Linked DNA regions of Homo sapiens. The protein of the gene in region 2 interacts with the protein of the main gene of each other region in a pairwise test. Each region holds a gene or a part of one and is shown on either strand. Other genes may lie near its edges.

Region 1 (3,751 bases), on a different chromosome or scaffold from region 2:
CTTAGTAAAATTTGCTAAGTGCATAATGGAGCAGACTGTAGATGGATGTAAGGTAACTCATGAGAGTGGCACATGAACAGGTGAAATTCAGGAAGCCAATCCAAGTGTGCCTGGAAGGAAGTAGTTCTCTGAATCCACCCTCTTATAAAATAGACACCGAGGGAAAGAAAGCTTACCTTACCTTGTCACCAAAGGTAAGACAAGGAAAAGAAAACTGCTATACCAGTCTAAATAAAAAGACTGCCCAGCAATCAACAGTTCTTTTCCCCTCTCTGACAACTGCAGGATGTTGGCAGGGTTTCTCAATAGACAAACTGTATTAGAATCATGTAGAGTATGAGCCGGGCACGGTGGCTCATGCCTATAATCCCAGCATTTTGGGAGGCCAAGGCATGCCAATCACCTTAGGTCAGGAGTTCAAGACCAGCCTGGCCAATATTGAGAAACCCCGTTTCTACTAAAAATACAAAAATTAGCTGGGCGTGATGGTGGGCACCTGTAATCCCAACTACTTGGGAGGCTGAAGCAGGATAATTGCTTGAACCAGGGAGGTGGAGATTACAGTGAGCCGAGATCATACCACTGCACTCCAGCCTGGGCGACAGAGCAAGACTCCTCACAGAAGGATCACATCAGGCACAGAAGGATCCACATAGAAAAGATTCACACCCACCCACAATTGCCCTGGAGAAGGAAGGGGAGAGACAAAACAAACAAACAAACATGTAGAGTATGAATGAACCAGACAATAGGGTTGGGGCCTAGGAATCTTATGCACAAAGAAATTTTGAGGACCACTGTTTTGAAGGTCAACAGTTCTAACTGCCCCCCCATACACCTTAGTGTTTCAAAAAGTGAGTTGTGAGAACAACCAGTGATATTCAGAATGATTTTAGCATGGAAGACTTATGCCTTCATTTCATTGTGCATTAAAATATTAAATACAACTGGTATCTCACAAACCAATAATTTCATAGATATTATTGCTTACGATGAAGCCAAGTAAAAATCTAAGGTAAAATTTACTAAGTGCATAATGGAGCAGACTGTAGATGGATGTAAGGTAACTCATGAGAATGGCACATGAACAGGTGAAATTCAGGAAGCCAATCCAAGTGTGCCCGGAGGGAAGTGGTTCTCTGAATCTGCCCTCTTGACAACACAGCTCATTCCATCCTCCTGCATTTTACATCAGGCACAGAAGGATCCACATAAGAGAGATTCACACCCACCCACAATTGCCCTAGAGAAGGAAGGGGAGAGACAGAGAGCCTTTACTTATGTACCACGGAGCTTCAGAGTTAAGCCAGGTGCCCCTGCCTATCTCTACGTGGAGAACAATTGAACATGGGTGGAAGTAGCAGGCTCCTAGGAGCCGGGCCCTGGTGGGTGGCAGTATACGTGCATGTGTTGGTGGTCACTGAGACTTGGGTGGCCTGATTCTGTATTGTGCATGATTTGCTTTTCTGGCCACTAATAGGTCTCACGGTGAAGACAGCAGAACCAGATGGAGTAGGGGCTCAAGGAACAGGTAGCCACACCAACACTTCCCAGGAGTTCAGCCCTTTACAGGCCACAGAGCAACAATATTGTTGAATGTCAGAGTGAAACAGACCGCAGCCACCAAGTGATCGAAGTCTCTCATTTTCCAGCTGAAAAACAGGAATACAGAGAGAGAGTCTTCTGGTCAAGGTAGCAGCACTGACTGGTAACTGAAGTTGGTCGGATCAGTTAAAGCCTCCTTTTCCGGAGTTCTGTTACGATATATGACTCTCTACGCCAGTTCCCTAGTAGGGACTCATGACTGACTGTCTCCCTGGCAATGACAGAAACTCCAATCCTATTCGACTCATTTAATGATTTGGTATAGGATTCAGAGGCGCACGCGGCGAAGGCTGAGCAAGGGCTGTCTGTGGTTAAGCTCATCACAGGATGAGGCCATGCCCCACGCAACTCAGTCAGAGCTGGGCTTGCGATGATGCACCCAGAGTAGTTGTTTTGGGTGGGGGCTGCGAGGAACTCATAAAAGATGTAAGAGGAGGAGAAAGTTGGCAAGAAGTGGATGCTTTCATCTGCAGAGAAAGGCCCCTGAGCCCTAAAAAAACTGCCCTCCTCCCCACTCCCCCCTCCTCCCCCCGACACACAAAAAAGTTCACCCACTACACCTGCCTTCCCCAGATGGGCTCCCTGCGCAACGCCTCCTCGTCCTCCGAGATTTTCCAATGGTGGCGCAAGCTCCTCCCTCGCCCGAGCTGGGCGCCGTCCTAGAGCCAAGCGCCCGCTAGAGCCGAGACTAGGGGGCGGTGAGGAGTGGGACCCGCTCGCGGCCATTGGTTGTGCGGCCAGGAGGGGCGGAGGGACGACGCGCGGGCTGTGCGGGGCCGGCAGCCCGGATCCACTCCCGCTGCGCCTGCTGTCCGCCGTGCGCCCAGACTGCGCGCCGCGCCGCTGCGCCCAACATTCCCGAGGACGGCTTCGCGGGCGCGTATCGTCCAGACCGGAGCACCGCCCCACCGCTAGCGCAGGAGACCTGCCGGGGAAGTCGCGTGTCCTGACCTGCAGGTCAGTGAGGGAAACTTGCAGGGTCCCGAGCTCTGGGGGTGAACTTGCCCTACGCGGAGAGCGCCCCACTCCTTGCCTGGGGCGGCCTCGGGTCCTGGAGGCGAGCCGCCTCCCAGACTCTCCCCCGAGATCTGGGCTCCCGGAGATGTGGCTCCTTTCTGAGAAACACCCCCAAATCTATCCCTTTTGAGGTGTCCTTACTGTCCCGAGAAGCAATCGCAGCCCGGCTCTCCGAGTCTTGGGGTGACTCCACGGGCTGCAGGAGGAGCCGCGAGGGGCCCTGAGTGCAATGTCCTTGGCCCCGTGTTGACCTGCCTCGGTCCCAGACACTGGGAACCGGGAAGGTCTACCCTCGCTCTGCAAGGTGGATTCCTCCATGCAAGTGTAGACAGTTCTACACTTTGCAGAGTGTGTCTAGGTGCCTTCTGTTTGCTTTTGCCTTTGTGGTGTGTGGAGGGTCATTCTTGGGTTTGTTTTGCTCCTGTCTGATTTTCTAGGGTCATTTGCGTCCCTTCTCGGGAACGGGGACTCGCCATGCGCACACTGACAGCTGGCTTTGCACCTGCTAAGGCGCTGGAGAGTCTTTTCGCCCGTCTTAGGGTGGCCCTAAATCCGGGGAAGTTTTATGTGGCGCTGAACACTTGCGTTTCCCAGGGGCGTTTTCCCTAGCTCCCGGAAACCCAGTAGGTAACTGCGCCAGCGACCCTTCCCCTCTTCCCGGGTCTGATGAGACACTGGAATCCTGCCTTTCCCTGTCGAGGTGTGCGAATGATGGGCAAATTGCTTCAGTTCTGATTTAGGAAAGGGATATGTAATGTGCCCTCCTCCAGGGAGCAGAGGGATTCATTCACAGAAATATCTTGTTGAGGACCAGGATTGGGGCTATGCCTGCCCGCTTTCCTCCACCAGATGCCCGGGCTCCATCGGACTTGGGTTTGATCTCAGACTCTAGAGATGGGGTCTGTTTGTTAGTGTCCTTCATTTCCTCTCCCTGTTAATTTTTCTTCGGAAAATGTTCTGCTAAAGTAAGTACTTCAGTGTTCTTTGTGGTAAATGATGGGCTCCGATGTCTAGAGGACGTCTCAAAGCCATCGCATTTGGTACCGTCTGCACTACAGGTGCAAAGGGCGGGGAAACTGACAGCGTTACTGTCCTGGGGCGGACCCGCGGGACTACTCCCTAAGACGTT
Region 2 (3,751 bases):
CAAACAACAGACTGGGAGAAGATATTTGCAAGAGTCATATCTGACAAAGGATCGTTACCCAAAATATACAACAAATTTAAAACTTAACAATAAGAACATAAACGTCCTCATTAAAAATGTGCCAAAGAATTTAACAAGACACCTTACGAAAGAAGATATAGAGATGGTAAAGAAACGCATGAAAAGATGGTCCACATCTTATGTCACAAGGGAAATGCAAATTAACATGATAGTGAGATTCCACTAGCACCTGTTAGAATGGTAAAAATCCAGAACACTGGCACTACCAATTGCTGGAGATTTTGCAGAACAGCAGGAACTCATTGACTGTTGATTGAAATCTTCAAAGTGACAAGGCCATGTGGAAGACAGTATGGCAGTTTCTTACAAAACTAAACGTACTCTTACTTACAATACACTAATCATACTTAACCAAATGAGTTGAAAAACTTATGTCCACACATGACCTGCACACAGATATTTATAGCAATGTTACTCCTAATTGCCAAAGTTGGGAAGCCATCAAGATGTCCTTCAGTAGGTGAATGCATAAATAAACTGTGGTGCTTCTAGACAATGAAATATTATTCAGTACTAAAAATAAATGAGCTATCAAGCCATAAGAAAACATGGAGGAAATTTAAATGCATGTATTTAGGTGAAAGAACGCAATCTAAAAAAAACACCTATTGTACAATTCCAACTGTATGACTTTCTGGAAAAGGCAAACTATGAAGACAATAAAAGATTTGTGGTTGCCAGGGATTGGTGGGATACTATGTGATACTACAAAGGTAGATTCATATCACTATACTTGTGTTAAAACCCACAGAACACACAACACAGAGAATGAACCCCATTGTGATTTGTGTACTTTTAGTAATGATGTGTCAATGTAGTTCATCAATTGGTACAAAGGTTACATGCTGGTGGAGGAGGTTGATAATTAAAAAGCTATGCATTTGTGGGGGCAAGGGGCATATGGGATAGATCTGTACTTTGCTCTCAATTTTTCTTTAAGCCTAAAACTGCTCTAAAACATACAGTATATTTTAAAATAATTATTCATACATTAAAAAATAAACCCACTTTGGGAGGCTGAAGCAGGCAGATCACGAGGTCAGGAGTTCAAGACCAGCCTGACCAACATGCTGAAACCCCGTCTCTACTAAAAATACAAAAATTAGCCAGGTGTGATGGCTCATGCCTGTAATCCCAACTACTCAGGAGGCTGAGGCAGGAGAATCTCTTGAACCCGGAAGACGGAGGTTGCAGTGAGCCCAGATTGTGCCACTGCACTCCAGCCTGGATGATGGAGCGAGACTCCATCTCAAAAAATAAAATTAAAAATAAATAAACAAACAAACCTAGTATGTGCCAACATAAATAACATATTTTATGAGAAATAACTATATTTCCCCCCCTCCAGAAAATGAATAATGTGAAAAAAGGATCCAGAATATCCACAGTGACATTTTCCCGTGGTTTGAAGCTTGGGCTAGTGATAAACCTATATTTAATATCCTTTCACCTGCCCTATTCTGTCATTCTTTTAATCCTTCATTTCTTTTGGGCATGCTCATCTGAGACTCCAGATGGAAATGCTCAGAGGATAGATTTTTCATCCTCTGAGCAGGGGGCTAAGAAAAGGTGCCAGAAAGAAATAGTAGCAATATGTGCCTGTCAGCTATCAGGAAGGCCTGTAAAGGGGGCGTCAGCTAGTAGTGCATAGGTGGCCTTTTATTTTGCTGCTTTTCCACACTGAGTTTAAATACAATTATCATGGATGACCCACAACCCTAGAATAGATCTGAACTCAATATATTTTAAATATAACTCAACTGGAAGCATGTTGTGACAGAATACTATATAGTTTTTCAGATGAAGAGCCTGAAAAGTAATTACTGACGTCGTGAGGGTTGGCTGTTGTATTATGAGGCTAGTGGGACAGTGTATTTGGCATTAGGTCTTATGAAATATGAGTTTGCAACACCATTGGTCTTCCCCTAGATTTGCAACTTACCCCAAGGACTTTGGGTTCTCCCTTCAAGAACTTCTCTTGCAATCCTTTCCACAGATGTGAATGTATGACAGCCATGTTTCCCAGCTGGGGCACACCAGGGCCAGCCCCTGGCATGGCCTGTTCCATTCCTTGCATGGTTGTCATGGCAGCAGAAAAGGTGCTACAATAAGAAATGTAATTTAGTATGATGTCCTGGAAATGGCAAAAGAGGACATGACACTTTGGGGCAGGTTCCTCCCTAAGGACAGAATCTGGTCTACATTCTCTTCCCATATCATAATAGCTGTTAGAGCTGGGGAAGTGGAATAGGCAACACATTAAGTGTGTGTGTGGGGCGGGGGCAGGTGGGAGAGAAACTAAATGTCATATGATATCAAGATGCTAGAAAATCCTGCAGAGAGGGACATGTTGACAGAAGCGAGGTAAACCTGTTGGACCTCTAAAATTAGAGAAATTTCTTTAAGTTCCAATTCCAAGTCGGCTCAGATTTTATTTCTATCCCTCTTACTGCCTAATCCCTTGATTACAGCCACTTACCCACAAAGGATTACTTTGTTTTTTAGTTTTGTTTTTTTGTTTTTTTTTTTTGAGATGGAGTCTCACGCTGTCACCAGGCTGCAATGCAGTGGCGCGATCTCGGCACACTGCAACCTCTGCCTCCTGGGTTCAAACGATTCTCCTGCCTCAGTCTCCCGAGTAGCTGTTACTACAGGCGCGTGCCACCATGCTGAGCCAATTTTTGTATTTTTAGTAGAGACAGAGTTTCACCATGTTGGCCAGTATGGTCTCCATCTCCTGACCTTGTGATCCGCCCGCCTCGGCCTCCCAAAGTGCTGGAATTACAGGTGTGAGCCACCGCACCCAGCTGAAGGATTACTTTTATAATAGTAATAAACTACACAAACTAATCTGCCTTCCAATTTATTGTATAGTATTGCATAGTTCCTCCTTTTCTAATCAGAGCACAGTTAAATTCACAGGGCTGAAAATCTTCCCATGTTCCTCCTTGCTGAGTGTGATTTATGTAACCTTGTATTTTGTGCCACAAACTCTGAACTTTGGGAATGAAACTTATGGCTCTCAGTCATATTCTTGGCACCACAAATCTAAATCTCTTGTCCTATTACATTGCTTTAAATCCTAACTTGCTGGTGCATAGCAAGGATCCATCAAATCATTTTTTGAGAATCTAAGCACAAACATATTACTCTTATATCTCTTTCTGTCCTCAGTATAATAACTCCAACCAAGTCATGTAGAGATAGGCTAAAGTCACATGGAAATTTTTATCTATGTAGTTGAATTCATATTCAGGTGTTTCATGATCAACTTCCATAAATTTTTAGGGAAATGAAGCTTGCTAATATCCTTCAAGTAATAGTTAATTTTGATACCACTTATTCTCCACTGAGCCCCTATAAAAGTCTCGTTTTGAGATGTGTGCCCTTTTATTGGTACCATAAATGAAAAAAAAATTGTTGTACTCCAAATTTGCTATGTTGAGAAAAAAATTAAGATTTCTCTGAAAAAATTATCATCCTGTATTTATTTTTGATACATCAATGGAAATAAATTATTAGCTATCTAACAATAAAACTGATTAAAGTCAGAAGAAGGGGGGTGAATTTCAGAGAAAGATAGAGGAGAAACGTTAAAATGAAAAGATTAATTATTTAGAACATTAATTTAACTTTAGTAATGTATATACTTAAAATTATGAAAAATAGT
Region 3 (3,751 bases), on a different chromosome or scaffold from region 2:
AGTGCCTTTGTTAGTAAGTTGTTTGGATTCAGAACAGATTTTCCCAGCAAAAGAAGGCTCTTAGTGGTGTTTACAGTCTAGCCTGCAACATCTTACTCAACATACTACACCTTTGTTGCGTCAAGTATTCAGTAAATGCTGGTGGTTGAGTATTTCTGTGTTTACCAGGTTGCCCTTCAGCACCGTGATGTTTGAGCTGAGCTGTTCTCTCCCTTGACAGAGAGAGCTCTTTCCGACCCCCGCCCCTCCGAGACGGAGTCTTGCTCTGTCGCCCAGGCTGGAGTGCAGTGGCGCGATCTCGGCTCACTGCAACCTCCGCCTCCCAGGTTCAAACGATTCTCCTGCCTCAGCCTCCAGAGTAGCTGGGATTACAGGTGCGTGCCACCACGCCCGGCTTTTTGTATTTTTAGTAGAGACGGGTTTTCACCATGTTTGCCACCGAGCTTTTTTATCATATGCAAAGCTTCTGCTTGTAAAAGTAAACACATGATCTTTCTTTAGCCCTAGCTTCGCAAGTTGTACTTCTCTCTACACAGTTCAACTGCAAGACACCGCAATAATTTTCTGAACACTTAGATGAAACAATAATTTTCACATGCTGATGAAAACTTAGCTGTAGCCCCGGGGAGGTTTGAGGCACATTAGGCTATTATGGTCTATAGGATAAGACCCACGGAGTAAGGGACGTAACCTTATTAAAACATCCTCTGCAGAGAAAACAGAATCTCTTTGATGGTAGGGGACAGATTATCTAACAGGTTGTTTGCAAGGATGAGGTTCCTAGCTGGCACACAGAAGGGCGCAGTATTAATGGTGAATGCAAGATGAATGAATGAACGGATGGATGGATGGCAAAGGGTCACAGGAAGACATCTGGGCACACAACTCTCATTGCTTCCTAAGGGCCTGAAGTCTGAGTGGGAAGGACTTCACCTCACAGTATTTCCTTTTTGTAAGGTCACCAGGAAAGCACAACTTTGAACATTTCTGTGACTTCGTTATTGCTTTGCAGAATTCAGAGAGAACAATGCCTTCATGACATTTGTTTTACTTTGCATCTTTCTTCTTTACTAAAGGTGGGTCAGTGGAGGTTTTATATTTCAGCTTTGAAAAACAAAGTATCCAGGACTATTTGCCCCAGGAGGCCAAGAAACCTCTTACAAGAACCTTAAATATTGTTGGTTGCCTCTGGGGGCTGTCCGCACCCTCGGGTAGCTTTGGGGTTGAGGTTTCCAGCGTTAGGTCGGGCTTGGAGTAGAGCCTGCCTCCCACGGGGGTGGTGGGTGTGGGCTGCACTTCCCGCAGCCACTTCAAACAAATCTCTGAGGACAGAGGGGCAGAGGGACTGCGTTCTAATACGGAGCTCCGAGGTATGGCTCCGTGAGGCTTGTGGGTACTAGCGGTCCTTTAGTGGGCGCTTTTCCCTCTCGGGGCCGGCCGACCACCCACCTGGGGACGATCCCAGGCAGGAACGCGTCTGCAAGAGCGCTGCCCTCCCGCGGCTCGCACGGGCCCCTTTGAGCGCAGCTCGCGGCCTTGCAGGTTGGGGACGCTCTCCAGTGGGAACGTCGAACGCACCCGGCGGGGCGGGGCGGGGCAGGGAGGGGCCGCTGTCCCTAGGTCCCTCCCTCGCACCGCCAAACTTTCCTTTGGCTCTGGACGCGTCGCAGGGGTCGCTGGAGAGGAGGCGCTCCGCCCGCCCGCCGCGTCCTCCGCTGCTTCTCCGCGCCCGGCTGGAGCCCGGCGCCCGGTCGCCCCGTCGCGCTCGACCCCGAGGGCATGCGGCAGCCGCAGGGGCCCCCGCTCCCGGGCTCGGCGGCGCGGGTGAACGTGAGCGGTGAGTGAGGGTCCGGGCGCAGGGAGGGTACCCCGAGCCGCAGTCACCAGGGCGTGCGTCGTGGGGAGGCCGGGGCGCAGCGGCGCCTGCAGGGCTCTAGCCTGCGGCTTTTCGGGGTTGCCTGGCGTGCAAGCCTGGGCTCCAGACCCACTCCAAACCCCGGGACAAGACTCTCCCGGCGGGTGTATGGCACAACTTGCTCTTTTCCCACCTTTTTCCCCGCTAGGAGCAAAAAGCAATCTAGATGCAAAATCGGCGTTGCGTCCGCTGCTGAGGGCTGGCGGGCTGGGCGCAGAGGCCAGGAGAGCGCCGCACGGGTTGCGTCTGCCTTTGCACACGTGGTTCTTTCCAAACTCAGTCTCATTGCCATCGATGGTGATTAGGAAACTGGGGTTCTCTCGTGAAGCCTAGGGATATAACATTTTTCAGCCTCCAGTTACATCTGGTACTGTGCTGTGTCCGCTGGGGAACAGCTTGAACCATGTGCAGGCTTCTAGAGATTCGGGAACTAGTAACTAGCAACACTGTCGGGGTTGTTTGTTCAGGGTATGCCCCCTCACCACCACGAGACAAAAGTGCTTTTGTTCTGTAGCAGAGTTACTTTATTGCTTTCCCTCAACAAGTTGCAGCTACACAAAATTGCTTAGAAATTCCGCACGCATGTAATTTGAGGAGTGACTGTGAATATTGGAAACAATTTAGTCTTATTAAGGTAATCATTAAAATGGCCCTGAAAAGCATTTGTAGGTTAGTTTTTATTTATTTATTTATTTATTTATTTATTTATTTATTTATTTATTTTTGAGACACAGTCTCGCACTATCATCCGGGCTGGAGTGCAGTGGCGCGATCTCGGCTCACTGCAACCTCCGCCTCCCAGGTTCGAGCGATTCTCCTGCCTCAGCCTCCCTAGTAGCTGGGATTGCAGGCGCCCACCACCACGCTAGGCTAATTTTTTGTATTTTTAGTAGAGACGGGGTTCCACTGTGTTGGCCAGGCTGATCTCGAACGCTTGACCTCGTGATCCACCCTCCTCAGCATCCCAAAGTGCTGGGATTACAGGTGTGAGCCACTGCGCCCGGCTAGGTCAGTTTTTTAAACTGAGTAATTTCCACGAAATGTTTCCCCCGTAATTTGTTATTGTCATTACAACGCTTTTCTTCCTCCTTTTCCTCCGAAAGTAGCATTACCTGGTCTTGAGATGCCGTTTAGAAATAAAGGGCTTTCTCACGGTTCCAACTTAGTCTGTATCAGAGAATAAAGTAAATGTCAATTACAGACAGACAATCAATCTCCTCTTTACAAATTCCATGTACCGCACAACGTTTCATTAATGCATGGACTTTTGTATCGCTGAGAAGAGTTGCTGGATTTTCCATTGATCCATCAACAGTTGCTAACCCTGCTTTCCATGGGCAGTGGATCTGATATTTAGTGGCCTGAGTCCAGTAAACAGAGTTTTCCTCTTTTTGGGACAGAAGTGATACGGTTAGAAACACACACCTTGGCTCTGTTAACCCCAGGCTTGTCTAAACAAACTGGACTATACTAAAAAGACGAGCGAGCAAACCCTGCCAGTCAGAGTTGTGTACTTGAGATAAGCTTCCAGAGTTGTCTCTTGTGCCTTGAGACAGCAAGGAACTAGTTATCCTGTGGAGATCTGGACGTCTAACTATTTGGACAACACTTACATTGATTGTCACTATCATATAACTAAGAAAATAGGTCATTTTGGCAAAAATTTTTTCTTTGTCTTTAGAATTTGAAACTTTGAGGTTTTGATTTAATTACATATGACACTCCTCTTGTCTAAACCTTTCAATTGCATTTATCAACTACCACTCTTTTTTTTTTTATCAGATCAGACCTATTTTAGATATCTTGCTGTTCTGCAAGATATTTGTTAGAACAGGC

What was found.
Region 1: the proteins of MS4A4A (region 2) and SERTM1 interact in binary tests that used the Homo sapiens proteins (3 or more experiments, as listed by UniProt).
Region 3: the proteins of MS4A4A (region 2) and LPAR3 interact in binary tests that used the Homo sapiens proteins (3 or more experiments, as listed by UniProt).

The regions. Positions count from the first base shown.
Region 1 is NC_000013.11:36,671,623-36,675,373, forward strand, and holds the start of SERTM1 (serine-rich and transmembrane domain-containing protein 1), read left to right. Parts: upstream 1-2,397; 5' UTR 2,398-2,562; intron 2,563-3,722; exon of another isoform or gene 3,723-3,751.
Region 2 is NC_000011.10:60,290,657-60,294,407, reverse strand, and holds part of MS4A4A (membrane-spanning 4-domains subfamily A member 4A), read right to left. Parts: intron 2,184-3,751; coding exon 2,024-2,183; intron 1-2,023.
Region 3 is NC_000001.11:84,891,102-84,894,852, reverse strand, and holds the start of LPAR3 (lysophosphatidic acid receptor 3), read left to right. Parts: upstream 1-1,646; 5' UTR 1,647-1,837; intron 1,838-3,751. UniProt on the Homo sapiens protein: Receptor for lysophosphatidic acid (LPA), a mediator of diverse cellular activities. May play a role in the development of ovarian cancer. Seems to be coupled to the G(i)/G(o) and G(q) families of heteromeric G proteins.